Homo sapiens: one gene and its partner. The protein of the gene in region 1 interacts with the protein of each later gene in a pairwise test. Each region holds a gene or a part of one and is shown on either strand. Other genes may lie near its edges.

What was found. Proteins that work in one complex are often made in the same cells at the same time.
Region 2: the proteins of SSX1 (region 1) and LHX4 interact in a two-hybrid assay, tested with the Homo sapiens proteins (one study listed by BioGRID).

Annotation. Positions count from the first base shown.
Region 1 is NC_000023.11:48,261,714-48,265,551, forward strand, and holds part of SSX1 (protein SSX1), read left to right. Parts: intron 1-52; coding exon 53-102; intron 103-2,068; coding exon 2,069-2,204; intron 2,205-3,838. UniProt on the Homo sapiens protein: Could act as a modulator of transcription. Plays a role in spermatogenesis.
Region 2 is NC_000001.11:180,261,264-180,264,763, reverse strand, and holds part of LHX4 (LIM/homeobox protein Lhx4), read right to left. Parts: intron 1-3,500. UniProt on the Homo sapiens protein: May play a critical role in the development of respiratory control mechanisms and in the normal growth and maturation of the lung. Binds preferentially to methylated DNA.

The sequences.
Region 1 (3,838 bases):
GAGTTTGGAAATCTTTACCAACAAAGAAAAATTCTGATGTGTTCTCTTTCAGTTGAACATCCTCAGATGACTTTCGGCAGGCTCCACAGAATCATCCCGAAGGTGAGTATCTCTCAAATCTAAAGGACCAGAGAACCTTTTTCCTTTCATGGATGTGAACACTGATAAGACAGGGAGAATATCAAAAACGCCCTCATTGCCTCTTTCTCCCCATGTCTATCACAACAACTTATGTAGCACCGACGGCTTGATAATACTAACAGTTGTGATCCTTAATACTTCTTTTGTTTTCATAGTGATGCCAGATACTATTTTAAGCAGTTCACATGGATTAATTAATTTAATCCATAAGAAGACCTCTATGACATTGTTTCTTTTATTATCTCCAAATAGTAATGAGTCACACACTTCGGTTGTCATCCATATAAAAGCCATGTGACTTGGCACAAATCTTCTAAGTTATCGGAGCTCCAGATTCCTAGTCCATGAAATGGAAGTAAAGAATAATAGTTCATGTTATAGACCATAGTTATCAGCAACATAATAATAAAATGAGGCTATCGGGGTACAGAGATGTTAAAGAATTTTCCTGGGGCACAGTGTCAGTGGTAGTCTAATCCAGAGCTCCAAGCCATTTAAAGCTCATTCACGTTTGTATTTGTTTATGAAGTTCAGATGTTGCTCACTAGGGCTTTACCCCATAGGGCCTACTGGTGCTTCCATTGAGACACCCACTCTCGCAACAGGAAGGACCAGCTGGCCTCTGCTCTGTTACCGGGGCCACTCCCATGGCTTAGGAATCGCTTTGACTGTTGGCCCCTCCTTGAGCTCCTTGAGGGCTTTGTCTGCACCTGGGGCATCCGAGAAGCCCCAGTCCCAGCCCAGGGGATCCCTCAGAGGCCCCTGAATGAGTGATTCTGGAAGTGCAGATTCAGCTCTGGTTTAGAAGGTAAAGGGATCTGGGAGTTGGGTTGCCAGTATGGAGAACGAATTCAAAGAAGGATCCAGAAAGGTATTCAATGTTATTATTATTACATTTGAACAATGTTTACAAGCTCAGAGAGGATTTTCCCTTAGCTTATTTTACATGTATTATTCACTATTTCATAAGTGAGGAAGCTGAGTAAAAAGTAGCTTAAGGGCCGGGCGCGGGGGCTCACGACTGTAATCCCAGCAATTTAGGAGGTTGAGGCGGGCAGATTACGAGGTCAAGAGATCGAGACCGTCCTGGCCAACATGGTGAAACCTCATCTCTACTAAAAATACAAAACTTAGCAGGGCGTGGTAGCGCCTGCCTGTAATCCTAGCTACTCAGGAGGCTGAGACAGGGGAATCGCTTGAACCGGGGAGGAGGAGATTGCAGTGAGCCAAGATCGCACCACTGCACTCTAGCCTGGTGACAGAGCGAGACTTTGTCAAAAAAAAAAAAAGAGTAGCTTAATATTGTTGGTCAGTGACACATCCCAGTGTAACCAGAATTGGTATGGGTACCACCTCACTGAATTCCACATTCAATGTTGGTGCCTCGGTAGGGTGGTATGCCAGATCTGGTACTGCTTTCTTTGCTGCCTAGATTAATTTCAGCAAACCATTTCTTTACCTCTCCCTTCCCTGTATTCATCTCCCCACACCATCTTTCCCAGCAGTGTTTTGTCCCCTCCCTATGTTTTTACATTTACTCTCCCAGCAGCTGTCTACGAGCTTATATGGGATCCCTTGTATTTTATAGAAGCTCTTCCTTTTGTAGACCTTGTGAATTCTTAGAATGCTATTTTTCTCCAAATATTCTGTGTACTACACTCTCAACTACATGGAGATTTCTGCTGTTTCCACGAATGTCAGTCTTAAAAGAGTGTGAAGATAAGCATTCTAGCCCTGGAAACTGCATTCATTTAGGCCATTCCTTTTGCTTCTAATCTCCCAGGTTTGTCTCATTTAGGCAAGTGTAACTCTCCCCGCGTTGTTGAGAACATTCATTAAGGTAATGCATGTGAAGACGCTTTGTAAGCTCTAAAGCACTATAGAAATGTCACTGATACTGTTTATCTGTAACCTTCACATTATAAAGATCATGCCCAAGAAGCCAGCAGAGGACGAAAATGATTCGAAGGGAGTGTCAGAAGCATCTGGCCCACAAAACGATGGGAAACAACTGCACCCCCCAGGAAAAGCAAATATTTCTGAGAAGATTAATAAGAGATCTGGTAAGAGGAAATGATTTGGGAACAACTTCTCTGGCTTTTCTGGCTATGTTCAGGTGTGTGGACTGGGTGTGTGGCATGGATCCCAGACAAGCCTGGGTCCAGGCTGGGCTGAAGAGCTCGCCCAGCTCCAGATGAGATGTTAGACATGACTTCCAGAGATGCAGACTGGAGTTGTCATCCATATAAAAAACCACGTGACTTGGGACAAGTCTTCCAAATTTTCTCAGCTCCAGATTCCTAGTCCATAAGATGGAAATAAAGAATCATAGTTCGTAAATTGTTTGGAGGCATTAAATTAAATCCTGAAGGCCTGATGACATGAAAGGTGCTCAAGCGATTCTATCTGTGATAACCTGGGATCATATCTTACTCAGCTCAATGCCTGATACCCAATACAGGTGTACTTCAGAGATATTGCAGGTTGGGTTCCAGAGCACTGCAATAAAGTGAGTCACACACATTGTTTTTCGTTTGTTTCGCAGTGCATAAAAACATTATGTTTACACTATAGTGTACTCTACTAAGTGTGCAATAGCATTATGTCTAAAAATGTACATACCTTAATTTTAAAATAATTTATTGTTAAAAAATGCTAACAATCTTCTGAGCCTTCAGTGAGTTACACTCTTCTTGTTGGTGGAGGGTCTTGCCTCGGTGTTGATGGCTGCTGGCTGATCAAGGTGGTGGTTGCTGAAGGGTGGAGTGGCTGTGGCAGTTTCTTAAAAGAACACAACAATGAAATTTGCCACATCGATTAGCTCTCCCTTTCATGAAAGATTTCTCTGTAGTATGTGATGCTATTCGATAGCATTTAGCCACTTTAGAACTTCTTTCAAAGTTGGAGTCAATCATCTCTAGCTATGAAAGTTTTAGATGGCATCTACTTCCGATAAAAGGCTGTTTAATCTATATTGAAAATCTGTTGTTTAGTGTAGCCACGTTCATCAGTGATCTTAGCTAGATCTTCTGGATAACTTGCTGCAGCTTCTCCATCAGTGTTTGCTGCTACACCTTGCACTTTTATGTTATGGGGACAGCTTCTTTCCTTAAACCTCACAAACCAACCTCTGCTAGTTTCACACGTTTCTTCACCTCTCTCAGCTTTCATGGGCTTGAAGAGAGTTCAGGTCTTGCTCTGAATTAGACTTTGGCTTAAGGGAATGTTGTGGCTGGTTTCATGTTCTATCCTGATCACTCAAACTTTCTCTATTGCAGCAGTAAGGCTGTTTTGCTTTCTTATTCTTGTGTTCACTGGGTATTAGTATTATTATTTCCTTCAAGAACTTTTCCTTTGCATTATATACTATTCTTTCTTTCAAGAACTTCTCCTTTGCATGCACAGCTTGGCTATTTGGTGCAAGAGGCCTAGCTTTCATCCTGTCTCGGCTTTCAGCATGCCTTCCTCACTAAGCTTAGCCATTTCTAGATTCTGATTTAATGTGAGAGAATGCGACTCTTCCTTTCATTTGAACAGTTAGTGGCCATTTTAGGATTGTTAACTGTCCTAATTTCAGTATCGCTGTATCTCAGGGAATAGGTAGGCCCAAGAAAAGGAAAAGAGATGGGGAAGAGCTCATTGGTGGAGCAGTCAGAATACACACAACATTGATCAATTACGTTCGTTATCTTCTCTA
Region 2 (3,500 bases), on another chromosome or scaffold:
AGCAGGAGTTCTCTGCGTGAGGGTCAGCATAGGCCTGTAAACCACCTGCTAAGTTGTTCAAAATTGTGCCTCAGGAGGGGACCTGGGTTTTCATCAGATTCTTAAAGGGATTCAGGACCCAGGAAAGTAGAGTTAATATTTGTTGAATAAATAAATCAGCAGATAAAGCACCATACTTGTAGAGGATGTGCACGGAGATGGCCGAACCTGAGGATGTAGAACAAAGCACACAGTCGGCTCTGGATGGTTCTAGACCTCCCAGAACACAGGTGAGAACCAGGTCCTCCACAACTGCTGTGTAACCACATCACCTGGATCAAAGAGGAAGGCTGGCAGGCACCCACCTCTACTGTGTGTGTGTGTGTGTGTGTGTGTGTGTGTGTGTTATGTGTGTGTGTATAACAGAGAAAGGAAGCCTACACATGTGTTACTAGAGAGTGTTTTCAAAAGGCCTGTATATTTAATATCCAATCCCAGCCAATTTGCAAAGCAGGTACTGAAATGAAACAAGGCACCAGGTGTGGTGGCTCACGCCTGTAATCCCAGCACTTTGGGAGGCTGAGGCAGGAGGATCACTTGAGCCCAGCCTGGGCAATATGGTGAATCCCTGCCTCTACAAAAAATGCAAAAAATTAGCCGGGTGTAGTGGTGTGCACCTGTAGTCCCAGCTACCTGGGAGGCTGAGATGGGAGGATCACCTGAGCCCAGGGAGGTTGAGGCTACAGTGAGCCAAGATCACGCCACTGCACTCCAGCCTGGGCAACAGAGCGAGACCCTGTCTCTAAATTAATTAATTAAAATGAAACAAGGCTTTCATCATGCTTGTTGCGAACCCTCCCAACAAACCACGCAAATCTGGAGAATGTGTCCTAACCAGAGATCCAAGGAGAGGAGGGCTGAGAGGAGACCCCGGAACAGAGGGAAGACCCTTCAGCAGCCTCCTCCACAGGGGCCACACTCTCTCCCACTAAAAAGCAGGCAGGGGGCTTTCAGTCACCGGAGGCCCAGCTGACACCAGCACACCAGAGACATGAAAGATAACGGGGGTATAAATTTAATCTACATACCGACAGTGATTCATGCATGAGGGTGGCAAGTGCACAAGAAAAATGAAAAATAAGTGGACTTCCCCACCAGCGTTTTTTAGCAATTGAAGCAATTTTCCTGATTGTGGGATTTATACTGAAGGGAAGTGGAAGTGGCTCCTCATTACCTTTTCCCCTGGAGCACAGCCAGCGGGACCCTTGCCGAGGGAGCCGCATGCAGCACCTCCTTGGCCCACAAGGCTCCCCCGGCCCAGCCCAGCCCTGCAGATCACCCTCCACCCCATCTCCAGTCAGAGCCAGTGTATCTAGAATACAGGGCATCCTACAGGGGTGTGTCTGTGATGGAGACACTGTCCCCATTCCCAGATCTTAGAATAGCCAGAGTCACAGGTGAGAAGGCCAAAGCCTGGCAGGTCACATGACTTGCCCTGCGACAGGCAATAATGAGACACACGGTCATGCCTAGAATTCCCTGGCCCCACACGAGGTAAAACTGTGAACCCGGCTGCTACACAGAGAACCAGAAGTCTAACCAACTGGACCAAATATGAAGGACGCTGGGGTAAAGAGGGAAAGGCTGGACTCCAGCCAAGGAAGAGGGCTCCCAAGGGCTTTTCCAAGCAGCACCCCTTAACACCGATCACCGGGCACCCATGCAGGGGCACCAAGGGCACTGGCCTCACCCTTCAGAAAGATAAGCCTGCTGCCCAGTCCTGCTAGCCAGGCCTCTGGGGACAACCAGTCCCCCCAGGAGAGCAGCTGGAGCTGATCCAAAACCACAGAGAAAATGCAAGGAAGACTTGCTAATGGCTCATATTATTTTCATCCTCTAACCAACACCACTGGAAATTGTCTTATCCCTGCCCAGCACATAGTAGGCAAGCCACAAAGACCCAATGAATGAATGAATGAATGAACGAATGAGCAAACGAATGAGTGAACGAACGAACTGCTTCTTAAAACATTTGCCTGAGTAGTCAGGGGAGGCTTGGCTCTCCATAATGGCAGCTCTTTTCTTTTCTTTTTTTTTTTTTTTCAAGTTTGGTATTAACTTTGTTCTATTTTTGGTCTAACTTTAAGTACCTAAAGATTTATTTCCACAGGCCTCAGAAAATGGGTAGAAATCACAGGACAATCCCTCTTCCCACCAAAAAAAGTTGCATACTTTGGTAAGTGTTTATCCTAGAGGGAAAAAGCTGAAATTTACATTAGCAGTGCTGTGCAAGATTCTGACATAAATCACGACCTCAAACCAGCCTGCAGTGGAGGTTCTAGTCTTCTGTTCAGGCACTTGGACAGAAGCCATAGCTGATGAGCATGACAGGGAAAAGGAGGCAGTAAAGACAGGTGACAGGCACCTTGTAGGGAAGGAGGATTCAGGAATGCCAGGCTCCTTGGAATGGTGTGCTGTTTTTCCTTTTTTTTTTTTTTTTTTTCCTTTCAAAGTCATCTCTGTAGGAAGGTGCTGGGCAGCGATCCCAGAGAAAGAAAGGTCCAAGACTCCTTTAACTGTCCTGGATGAAGGGCAGTGCTACAGCAGCTAGTACCGGAGACTCTCCTATCTCATGGTTGAGGCAGACCCAGGATAGAATAGAGAATAAAAGGAATGCTTATAGGAAACCATTTTGCATGGAATGCTAGATGGCCAAGCCTCAGCCTTTGGTCCAGTGCAACCCTTGCCTCACTTGTCAACAGTGAAAAATTAGTTTGGTTAGAGGAACCATCTGGAAACACACCAGCTTCTGCTAGCTTCATGTTCATTGCTAGAAAAAGATTAACCAGTGTGAACATTCTGATCTGTTAATTCCTGGGATTGTTTTCTTCCCGAAGGACTGTTTGTTGGTAGGATAACCCCCAAAAGCTCAAAGCTAAAATGCATCATCAGTCCTGGTTGGCAGTTCCTTAAGAATGGACTGGCGGCGTGAGCGAGCTGATATGGACAAGCTGCCCCTTCCTGCAGAACATCAACTGACCTACTATCTCACCCCAAATCTCTGCCTGAGGTATATTTCAGTGAAGGCAGTTAGTTGTGCTTCTCAGAGCAGAGAAGCAGTTTTAAGCTCTTTTCTTTAGGGGTGAGGGGATCTCACTCGGTTGCCCAGGCTGGAGTGCAGTGCCACAATCATAGCTCACTGCACTCGAACTCTCAGTCTTCCCACCTCGGCCTCCTGAGCAGCTAGGATCACAGGCACATGCCACCATGCCCAGCTCATTTTTTAAGACATGTTTTGTAGTGATTGGGTCCTACTATGTTGCCGAGGCTGGCCTTGAATTCCTGGTCTCAAGTGATCCTCCCACCTTGGCCCCCAAAGCACTGGAATTACAGGTGTGAGCCATCCCCTTTGCCTCTGCTGTCATTAGCTTCCCCTCTGCTGGCTCCTTCCATCCATGTACAGGCATGCTATGATCCCTGCCTGCCTCCCTTCTCTACCGCCCACTCCCCGCACCCTTCAG